Linked DNA regions of Homo sapiens. The protein of the gene in region 3 purifies or fractionates together with the protein of the main gene of each other region. This does not show direct contact. Each region holds a gene or a part of one and is shown on either strand. Other genes may lie near its edges.

The links.
Region 1: the proteins of CD9 (region 3) and ITGB1 purify together in Homo sapiens (co-immunoprecipitation; 5 studies listed by BioGRID and IntAct, with this or other methods). This does not show direct contact.
Region 2: the proteins of CD9 (region 3) and IGSF8 purify together in Homo sapiens (affinity purification with mass spectrometry; 7 studies listed by BioGRID and IntAct, with this or other methods). This does not show direct contact.

Annotation. Positions count from the first base shown.
Region 1 is NC_000010.11:32,923,627-32,927,373, forward strand, and holds part of ITGB1 (integrin beta-1 isoform 1A precursor), read right to left. Parts: intron 2,484-3,747; coding exon 2,245-2,483; intron 115-2,244; coding exon 1-114.
Region 2 is NC_000001.11:160,091,888-160,095,634, reverse strand, and holds part of IGSF8 (immunoglobulin superfamily member 8 precursor), read left to right. Parts: exon of another isoform or gene 1-214; intron 215-388; coding exon 389-766; intron 767-1,463; coding exon 1,464-1,925; intron 1,926-2,303; coding exon 2,304-2,711; intron 2,712-2,939; coding exon 2,940-3,353; intron 3,354-3,696; coding exon 3,697-3,747. UniProt on the Homo sapiens protein: Member of the immunoglobulin superfamily (IgSF) that links tetraspanin-enriched microdomains to the actin cytoskeleton and plays several important roles in innate and adaptive immunity.
Region 3 is NC_000012.12:6,198,859-6,202,605, forward strand, and holds the start of CD9 (CD9 antigen), read left to right. Parts: upstream 1-1,541; 5' UTR 1,542-1,641; coding exon 1,642-1,707; intron 1,708-1,983; exon of another isoform or gene 1,984-2,034; coding exon of another isoform or gene 2,035-2,115; intron 2,116-3,747. UniProt on the Homo sapiens protein: Integral membrane protein associated with integrins, which regulates different processes, such as sperm-egg fusion, platelet activation and aggregation, and cell adhesion.

The DNA.
Region 1 (3,747 bases), on a different chromosome or scaffold from region 3:
TTGTCCATCATTTGGTAAAACAATGCCACCAAGTTTCCCATCTCCAGCAAAGTGAAACCCGGCATCTGTGGAAAACACCAGCAGCCGTGTAACATTCCTCCAGCCAATCAGTGACTTGAAAAGAAAAGGATTTCAATTTTAAAACACTATTCACAGTAATTCAACAAAAATCCTTTAATTTTCATATAGGCCACCATTGTATTTTTAACCTAATTCTGTATTTTCTGTGTCTTCTCTTTATACAATGGTAATTATCTTGCTGAGAAACACACAAAGCCCACTGAATGAAGCTCTTCCATCCCATGTACAACGATATCTTGCCTGACCATCCGTATCTCTCAATCTCTCAGTTCTTTTTAAAAACTGTTTTTTTGTTTTGTTTGGTTTGGTTTAGTTCTGCTTATCATCATATCTCCAGCAGCTAGCAAGCCAGCACACTGCTTGGCAAGCAGTAAGCCCTTGATGAGCATTTGCTGAATAAATGAAAGTGTCTGAGCCTATCCTTACTTTACCCCACTGCTGCTGTCTTGTCCCCATCCACCCATCTCTGCTCTATGTTCTATGCCATGCACCTTCTTTATCAGCCCACCATATGAGGCTTCCTTTTTTTATAACAGAAATAAGTATCTTGTTTAAGGATAATTTCACCCATTCTAACTCCTCAATCAGTACTGTTTATGCACTCATTTACTTTATCCTTGCCCTTTCCAATAAAGAATCTAAAGTAACTGTAAAATCTTCTTGTCACTATGGTAATTTATAATTATAAAATCATAGGACTATAGGAATTTACCTGCTTTCGTTAATTTATTTAATACGTCTGTTTAGATCTTCATAAGACAGTAAAATACTTTAAGGTGGGAATCACATTTATTAATACTGGCAATCTTTCAAAAGTGGAATGTCTGATTCTTTTGCATCTAGAGGAGTGGATCAGCATGACCAACACAGAAAAACAGCCACAATCAAGGGTGTTATGGCTTGTTTAATACCACAGGTTAAGGCCTAGTTAGAGGCAGCCCAGAGAATGCCCTCCCCACAACGAGCTGCTAACAGGCTCACACATCAATGGCTAGTAAGAAAAGAGGTGTAAGGCTAGGTACTACCTGGAATGCTACTTGCTTCGGCTATAACAGCAGGGACTAACCTTAAATTGCAAACACTCTAGTGAAAAGTCGAAAGTAATAACAATATAGGAATTAGTATTTGCTGAATGCTCATTGGTACTTTATAGAGATTGATGCATTTTAACTTCACAAGAGCCCTATGAGGTAGATACTATCATGATCCCTTCTTAAAGAGAAGAAAACAGCCCTGGAGAGGCTGAGTAAATTGCCCAGCATCAGTGGTGATAGAAAAATTCTTAATTACTATCCATATTCCTTCACTTATTATTTTGGGCATCAATTAGCACCTTAGCAAAAATTGACTGAAAAATAACCACTAAGAGGCCTCTAAAATCAAAGAAGGTCATCTAGAGAATGGGGGCACTGGAGGGAACAAAAATGAGACAAGAGTAGGTACGCAGGACAAACTTGACATGACAATGTCTTCTAGTTTCAGCCTCAGCCACATCATTAAAGTGTCATCTCAAAATACATAGCTGCTACATGGATCATAAAATACAAATTATTGAACCAATAGGGATGGGCTTGCTACTGAAAATCTTACAATTAAAATTACAAATATTGTATCACTTCTCAAAATACATCTATTCATATAGGTTAAAAACTAGAGCTTAAAAAGTTCTCTCTTTTTGAATTACTAAGACACAGGAGAAAGATGTGTCTTTCAAAGACAGTGAGAAGAAAACTGACCAAAGGAAAATGATACAAGACACTCTCCCTTTGAGCAATTTCAAGGTTCCTGGTGATGCCTCAGATAATAACATCAATTCTATCTCTAGTACAAAGCCAGAAAGTTAGGACACATGGGCTTTTCTAAAATCCAGACCACCAGCTACAGTACAGAGAGGTTGCCCCGCTGTTTCAAATGGTTAGCATTCTGTCTTTTAAAAGCCCGCATGAATAAACTAACTGTGTGGTTTGCATAAAGATTAAATATGCTTTTATAAAGGCACTTTATGTATACAGGCAATTTAAGGGTTTACTTAAAATTACTTCTCTAAGATAATCAAATCTATGAAAATTAAGGTCAATTTTTCTATTATCATAGTAAAATCACACTTAAAATTCACACACATAATAGAAACAATATCCCCTGATAGGAAATGAATGCGCTTACTCCACAAACTGCAACTTGCATGATGGCATCGAAACCACCTTCTGGAGAATCCAAATTTCCAGATATGCGCTGTTTTCCAACAAGTTCATTAAATACTTCTCCTTTATTAGTAAGACTGAGCACATTTTTGTAGCTAAATGGGCTGGTGCAGTTCTGTTCACTTGTGCAAGGGTTCCTGAGCTTAGCTGGTGTTGTGCTAATGTAAGGCATCACAGTCTTTTCCACAAATGAGCCAAATCCTGCCAAGAAAAAAATGGTACATAAATGAATGAATGGATGGATAGATGGAAAGACAGAGATTTGCATTGTTTAAAAAATTCATCTATGTTACCAAATGTAGGTTACTATGGACTGAATGTCTGTGTTACCCCAAAATTCCTACATTGAAAACCTAATTCCCAACATGATGGTATTAGGAAGTGGTTCCTTTGGAAGGTGATTAGATCATGAGGGCAGAGCCCTCATGAATGGGATTAGTAACTGATACAGTTTGGGTATCTGTCCCCGCCCAAGTCTCATGTTAAAATGTGATCCCCAATGTTGAAGGTACGGCCTGGTGGAAGGTATTTCGATCATGGGGGCAGATCAATCCCTCATGGCTTGGTGCTATTCTGACCACAGTGAGTGAGTTCTCATGAGATCTGTTATTTAAAATTGTGTGGCATCTCTCCCCAACTCTTGCTCCTGCTCCCACCATGTGAGAAGCCTGCTCCCCACTTTGCCTTCTGCCACGATTGGAAGCTTCCTGAGGCCTCCCCAGAGGCCTTGCTGATGCTAGCGCCATGCTTCCTGTAGAGCTTGCAGGACCGTAAACCAATTAAACCTCTTTTCTTCATAAATTACCCAGTGTCAGATATGTCTTTATAGCAACGTAAGAATAGACTCCTACAGTGACCTCATCAAAGAAGCCCCAGAGAGCTGCTGTCTCCCTGCTGCTATGTGAGTACATCGCAAGAAGGTATCATCTATGAACCCAGAAGAGGGACCTCACCAGATGCTCAATCTGCCTGGATCTTGGACTTCTCACCTCCAGAGCTGTGAGAAATAAATTTCTGTTGTTCATAAGCCACCCAGTTTATAGTATTTTCTTAAAGCAGCACAAATGGACTAAGACCTAAGACAATCTTTTTATTTTGCCTCCCTACTTTAAAAATAACTCACATTCATTTTCTTGGCACACCAGCTCTCAATAATGACATGCTGAACAAATGAATAAACAAATATTCTAGAATTCTGGCCATTTTAAAAAACACTAATTTGATAGGAGCTCCCTAATGCCATGGTCCTTGAATTATGCTTACAGAATAAAAGAACATTTTAAGCAAGTGCTATTTTTAAATGTTTCCACTAAAATAGGGCTAATTTTTGAAAGGCAGCTCTTAGGCCTCATAACTGTCAAATCTTTCTAATATTCTGTTGCTAAACCTCTAGAGCAACAGGAGTGGAGAGAAGCAGGCAAAAAAGAGGTTAAGCTGGGGATGCATGAAATGGGAAAAATAAGGT
Region 2 (3,747 bases), on a different chromosome or scaffold from region 3:
CTCCCCTTGCCAGGTGCTGAGGAAGGAATGGCAGACATGGAGGTGGGTGAGTGGCAGGGACAGATCAAGGTTCAGTTGGAACCAAGGCCTGGTTAGGTCAGGAATCAGATGTACTCCTTTCTGCCTTCAGGTGCTCTGCTTCTAGTCCGCCAGAAATGGGATGCATCTGGATGCCAAGGCAATCCTGGGCCCATGCCACCTCCTTGAGATCCAGGTGTCTTATATCACAGCATCCCTTTCCTATTCTCAGAACAGGGTCCAAGCTGTGGACAAGCTTTCCCAGGTCTCCTTTCCTTTTGTAGGCAGAGATCAAGAATGGTGCTTGTGGCGGCAGAGGGCATGGAATGAGGAACCAGGCATCTCCAACTCCTTCTGCCTTTCCCTACAGGAATGGGATGCTGGGCCCGGGAGGTGCTGGTCCCCGAGGGGCCCTTGTACCGCGTGGCTGGCACAGCTGTCTCCATCTCCTGCAATGTGACCGGCTATGAGGGCCCTGCCCAGCAGAACTTCGAGTGGTTCCTGTATAGGCCCGAGGCCCCAGATACTGCACTGGGCATTGTCAGTACCAAGGATACCCAGTTCTCCTATGCTGTCTTCAAGTCCCGAGTGGTGGCGGGTGAGGTGCAGGTGCAGCGCCTACAAGGTGATGCCGTGGTGCTCAAGATTGCCCGCCTGCAGGCCCAGGATGCCGGCATTTATGAGTGCCACACCCCCTCCACTGATACCCGCTACCTGGGCAGCTACAGCGGCAAGGTGGAGCTGAGAGGTACTGGGCCCTGGGACGGGGTGGAGCCACACACCCTCTCAAGGCAGAAAGTCAAGGCCACAAGTGACCTATCTAGTTGCCCCTTAGGTTTTGTAGCCAAGGAACTTGAGGCCCAAAGAGGTTAAGTGATTTGCACAAAGTCACCCAATAACTCAGTGGCTGATGTGGGACTCAAACCCAGAGTTCCTCACCCAGGCCAGTGCTCATCTTATCATATTAAGACCCCTCCTGGGAGAAGAAATGTCCTTAAGTTGTCCAGTCCACTTTCCATTCCCAAGAACGAAGAAGACTGTTGGGTTGAATAGCCTCTACTCCTGGACAGTACAGGACCCAGATCTGGGAAAGAGAGTAGAGTTAGGGAAGGAGTTAGACCATGTGACATTCTCACTCTCTTAAGTTTCTTTGTCTTCTGAGAAGAAAGAGCCGCTTTTCTCAGTATTTCAAACAGAGGTCAGTCTCAAACATAAGGGTGAGTAGGCGATGGGCTGGTTCTATGAAATTCTACAAGTATTTATTGAGCGCCTGTGCTGTGCCCAGTACTGCCCTTGGCACCACTGAGTTACAGAAGAAATAATACAACATGCGATCTTTGCCCTCTGGGAGCTCACAGTTTATTTAGGGAGATAGGCTATACACAGGAAACAGTAACAAGGGCTGCCAGCTCCCAGCCCTCCCTCACTCCAGCTGTTCTCTCCAGTTCTTCCAGATGTCCTCCAGGTGTCTGCTGCCCCCCCAGGGCCCCGAGGCCGCCAGGCCCCAACCTCACCCCCACGCATGACGGTGCATGAGGGGCAGGAGCTGGCACTGGGCTGCCTGGCGAGGACAAGCACACAGAAGCACACACACCTGGCAGTGTCCTTTGGGCGATCTGTGCCCGAGGCACCAGTTGGGCGGTCAACTCTGCAGGAAGTGGTGGGAATCCGGTCAGACTTGGCCGTGGAGGCTGGAGCTCCCTATGCTGAGCGATTGGCTGCAGGGGAGCTTCGTCTGGGCAAGGAAGGGACCGATCGGTACCGCATGGTAGTAGGGGGTGCCCAGGCAGGGGACGCAGGCACCTACCACTGCACTGCCGCTGAGTGGATTCAGGATCCTGATGGCAGCTGGGCCCAGATTGCAGAGAAAAGGGCCGTCCTGGCCCACGTGGATGTGCAGACGCTGTGTAAGTGCCACTTATACATCCCACTGTGGGAGCTGGGAGGGACAGTATCCTGGTGGGCACTGTGGCCACAGGGGGTACCAGATAGCCATCATCTGACTCCAAGGAACTCATCTTCCACAGAGTGAGCAGCCTTGCTAGCATTTCTCTCCCCCGGCCCTTGATGGGTTTTCTCTGCTCAGAAATTGGGTATAGAGATAGGAGGCCCATGCTGAGGGGTGAGATTCAAGCCCCTAAATAGAAAGATGGTCATACCTAGTGAGGGGGAGACAGGAGGTTTTGAAGTTGCTGCTGTCAAGTAGGAAACAGGAAGTTGGGGAATCGGGTGCCTCTGTGTCCCCTCCTGCCTCCATGACACCTCTTCCCCTACCTGTGTTTCAGCCAGCCAGCTGGCAGTGACAGTGGGGCCTGGTGAACGTCGGATCGGCCCAGGGGAGCCCTTGGAACTGCTGTGCAATGTGTCAGGGGCACTTCCCCCAGCAGGCCGTCATGCTGCATACTCTGTAGGTTGGGAGATGGCACCTGCGGGGGCACCTGGGCCCGGCCGCCTGGTAGCCCAGCTGGACACAGAGGGTGTGGGCAGCCTGGGCCCTGGCTATGAGGGCCGACACATTGCCATGGAGAAGGTGGCATCCAGAACATACCGGCTACGGCTAGAGGCTGCCAGGCCTGGTGATGCGGGCACCTACCGCTGCCTCGCCAAAGCCTATGTTCGAGGGTCTGGGACCCGGCTTCGTGAAGCAGCCAGTGCCCGTTCCCGGCCTCTCCCTGTACATGTGCGGGAGGAAGGTGAGAGGGGGCTGGGCCCTGGACGGGGTTCGAGGATTGTCAACCCCTTTTCCTTCTGTTTCCATGACCCCTCCCTCTCCGTCAGCTGTTTGCAGGCCACAGCCTCACGCTCCTCTTCTACCAAGATTGTGGGAATACCCTGAGTTTCCTGGGGCGGTGCTTGGCGGCAGCCCTAACCCCATGCTCCCTGGCCCTGCACCCTCTGACCCCATGTCCTTTGTTCTGCAGGTGTGGTGCTGGAGGCTGTGGCATGGCTAGCAGGAGGCACAGTGTACCGCGGGGAGACTGCCTCCCTGCTGTGCAACATCTCTGTGCGGGGTGGCCCCCCAGGACTGCGGCTGGCCGCCAGCTGGTGGGTGGAGCGACCAGAGGACGGAGAGCTCAGCTCTGTCCCTGCCCAGCTGGTGGGTGGCGTAGGCCAGGATGGTGTGGCAGAGCTGGGAGTCCGGCCTGGAGGAGGCCCTGTCAGCGTAGAGCTGGTGGGGCCCCGAAGCCATCGGCTGAGACTACACAGCTTGGGGCCCGAGGATGAAGGCGTGTACCACTGTGCCCCCAGCGCCTGGGTGCAGCATGCCGACTACAGCTGGTACCAGGCGGGCAGTGCCCGCTCAGGGCCTGTTACAGTCTACCCCTACATGCATGGTGAGTGACACCCCCTCCACCCTCCTCACTCTGCCTTCCTCCTGGCCTCTGCCACTGGCCTTCCCTTCCCATCTTCTGACCCTCCTGCTACTATCTCTCTCCTCCACATTATGTCACATGAAGTCTCAAAAAATCCAACTTCCAGCCCTGCAGTGCCCACCTGCACGGGGTCCTCTGTGGTTGATGCTGACTTGCATGCTGAGGGGGCAGGCTGTGGGCAGGGATGGGGGTGTCTGTGAATGGAGAAGGTGGGTTCAGAGAACTTGATGGGGAAAGCGCAGAGGCAAGTGTATGGGTGGAGGATGATGGCATCCTCTCTGAACAGTCATCCTCTCTCCCCCAGCCCTGGACACCCTATTTGTGCCTCTGCTGGTGGGTACAGGGGTGGCCCTAG
Region 3 (3,747 bases):
CAACTTTCCCTGTGGTTCTGCAGCATCATCTCCCAGTCTGGGTCAGAGGCCTCTCCTTAGCCTCTTAGCCCCCAAGCCTCTCCCCGTAACTGCACCTATCACCCTCAAACCATTGTCTGGCTGCCTGTCTCCTCCCACACTGGTCCCTGAGCAGAAACAAGGACTAATCCATGTTTTTCAGCTCCTACCCCTAATGAAATACCCTAATAGATACTGAAAAATGTTTTTGAACCAATGAGACAAGTCTACTGATAATAAACAGGCAAATAACAGCAATGTGCTAACAGTGGCTGTTTCTGGTGAGCAGAATTTTGAGGTCTGTTCCTTTCACTTCTTGGTATTTCGGTTGTTTCTGTAATGACTGTATCTTGCTTTTGTAATCATAAAGGACAGTAAAGGAAACTTCATTTTGAAAATAATACAAAGGGATTCGGGGACTTCAAAAGAAGGTGACTCTCCTCGTCCACTCCAGAGAATCAGGAAAGGAGTGTTTAAAGACCCACAGAATTCCTACAAGTGACGTTGGGGGGGGGCCAGCCAGCCAGGGCGCATGCCGGCCAGCGAGTGGGGTGGGCTCTGGGTCCGGGAGAAGTCAGATCAGTGCTCTGTACAGGGCCTTGAGGGCAAGACGAGGAATTTCGACTTAGGTCCTTGAATCTGGAGAGCTACAGAAAGTTTGTGAGCTCAGGAGAAGCGCTCCGAGCTCGGCATCTGGAGCAGTTCAAGGCAGCAGCGAGCAAGTCCAAAGACGCAGGAGGGAGGGTGGGGTGGAGGAGTAGAGAGAAAACAGAAGCCGTCTACAGACCCTTTTTCCCTCTGGGGCAACTAAACCTCAAGTGCAGGAAGCGCTTGGGGACTGCCCAGCCCTCAGCTGTGTTATTATTCGGTGATAGGTATTTGCTAATTACTTCCAAAAGCCTCCCATCTGTCATCCCACCCAGACTGCGCGCTTCTAATTCCTCCTACCCCACATGCTGTGCCCAATGAAAAGTATGGTCAGCGAGCGAAGGTTTGCAAGGAGACAGACGAGGGCGAAATTAAGCCAGGCGGCTTCCCTTTAAATCCTCGCAAAGCAGAAGGGCCCCTCACTCTGGCAGCAGGCCTTGGCCAAGGGGCCTTTAGCCCTGACGACCCGGGGAAGAGTCTCCCAAAGCAGAACGCCCGGTCCGGCGCCCAGACCAAACGCGGGGGAACCGGAAGGGCGAGGCCTCCACGTAAGTCCGCGGTAAAAGTGGCAGGGAGTGGCTGCCTGCAAAGACCCCAAGACGGCTTGAAGAAGGAGTGGGTGGCGGGTGGGGGTTAGGGCGACTAGGCGGGGAAACAGGGAGAGGGTCGGGCTCCGCGGGGCAGCTGGGGCCGGGGCTCGCCGACCTGGGCGGGGGCGGGGGGCGGGGGGGGTGCGGCCCGGGCGGGGCCGGTGGGGCGGGAGGCGTGGCCGGCGGGGGGAGTGGGGGCGGCTTTTCCCGGCACATGCGCACCGCAGCGGGTCGCGCGCCCTAAGGAGTGGCACTTTTTAAAAGTGCAGCCGGAGACCAGCCTACAGCCGCCTGCATCTGTATCCAGCGCCAGGTCCCGCCAGTCCCAGCTGCGCGCGCCCCCCAGTCCCGCACCCGTTCGGCCCAGGCTAAGTTAGCCCTCACCATGCCGGTCAAAGGAGGCACCAAGTGCATCAAATACCTGCTGTTCGGATTTAACTTCATCTTCTGGGTGAGTGAGCGCGACTGCCGCGCGCTCCTCTCAGGGCCCACCTGTTCGCGGGCCCCGGACACTGGCCGCGGCCGCGAGTGCCGGCAGCTGGCACTGCCCGCACCGGGCAGGCACCGGGCGGGAAGAGAGAGCGCCCTGCGGCTGCCAGCTGGCTCCAAGGCCGGGTCCAGAGCCGGGCGGGACGGCCGCGACGGGCGCATTCGGGTGGGGGCTCATCACCGCCCAGCCGGCGTGGGGAGCCGGGCCCTCTTGAGATGAGGCGTGCGGGAGGGTCCTGAGCACTTTAGCTCGCCTAGGATTTGAGCTGGGGTGTGTGTCTGCTCCCAGCTCAAGTCCCTCCGAGTGCCAGAGAGGAAGGCAGGGAGAAGCGGAGCACCCCTCTTTGGGCCAAGGCCAAGGAGGACTGTGGTGAGCAGTATGGCTTGTGACCGGGTGGGGTCTCCCAGGTAGTAGGGGGCGCCAGGAAGGGAGGGTGCGGGCACGGCGAGAGCTCAGCCAAGAGCGGCTCTCACTTTTACGCAGGAGCGGCAGGGGTGCCTCGGCCGCGGGTCCGGCCCCGGGACCCAGTCCCTGAGAGTCGGGGGCCCCTCCACCCTTGAGGAGGAACCTCGCAGGCCCCCGTTCCCTCAGACTTTGATTCTGAGCCACCGTGAGAGCGCCGAACTCCCTGGTAGCTCCCTGAAAGACTAGCTTGTCTTGATTTCTTTCAAGGACGATAAGTATCTTCACTGGAGAGAACTCAGAGTTCGGGAGAGGAGGGGGCAGATACCTATCTGCGCCTCTAGTGGGATGAGTCCTGTGTGTGCATTTCCGGGAGAGATCAGGTGCCAGCCAGCTGCCCGCCCAGGAGAGCCTTGGCCTTGCCCTCTCCCCTCCCCGCCAGCCCAGGCGGCCCACCCAAGGCCAGGCAGGGCGCAGAGCGGACGTTCATCTGGAGAGGCCAGCGGGGCCAGGAGCTCCAGAGACACCTGCTGCAGGCCACTCAGCCTCTACAAATGGGAAGGCTGAGAGGCGACAGAAGCAAGGAATAGGAAACCCTTGTGTCCTTGTTTCTATAGCCACATTCCCTGCACACACATGACAATACTTGCCGCTCTGCAGGCAGGAAGAGAGTCTCTATGCCACTCTCAAGATAGATGGATGTAGAAACAGGTGCATGCCACCAGAGTCTTGTAACAAAAAAGTGCACTTGGCCAGGCACAGTGGCTCATGCCTGTAATCCCAGCACTTTGGGAGGCTGAGGCAGGAGGATCGCTTTCATCCAGGTTCAAGACCAGCCTGGGTAACATAGTGAGACCCCCATCTCCACAAAAAAATAAAAAATTAGCTGGGCGTGTTGGCATGCACCTGTGATCGCAGCTACTCAGGAGGCTGAGATGAGAGGATGGCATGAGCCTGGGAGGTCAAGGCTGCGGTGAGTCATGATTGCACCACTGCACTTAGCCTGGGTGACCTAGTGAGCCCTGTCTCAAAAAAAGTAGAAAAGAAACAAATGCACTTATTCCCCCTGGAGCTGGTCACTGAGGTCCCCACAAGCCTCCTTAGGGAAATCTTCTAAGATTCACTCCTCCCCAGAGCTGAAGGGGTGGTTGAACAGTTTTTCCAATTTGCAGAGACTGACTTCCCCCAGTGCATCAGTCACCATAACACACACCCCAGTGAGGACGGCATATAGGTGTGCTCCTTCCCAACCCTTGACTTGCTTTAAAAAGACCCTGCTGGCCGTGGGCACCCCTCCTCCTGTGTTGCCACCCACCCCAGCAACCACCCAGCTGCCACGCTTAGCTTCTTTCTTTCACCAATCCCTGGCAGCAGAAAAGTATGCGGGAAGGCAGCTGGCCTCACCCACCCTTGAACTTTGGGAGTTTTCCTCTCCCCTCCCAGGTACAGTCTCTCCCGGCTGGTGTGTTGGTTAGTCCTCAGCTGTCTGCCTAGACTGCATCCAGGTTTGGGACTGCAGGGAAACACAGACTGCCACAGTGTGCCTCCCTACCCCCATCTGCCCCATGGCATATGCAGGAAGCTGATGCGAGGCTCACA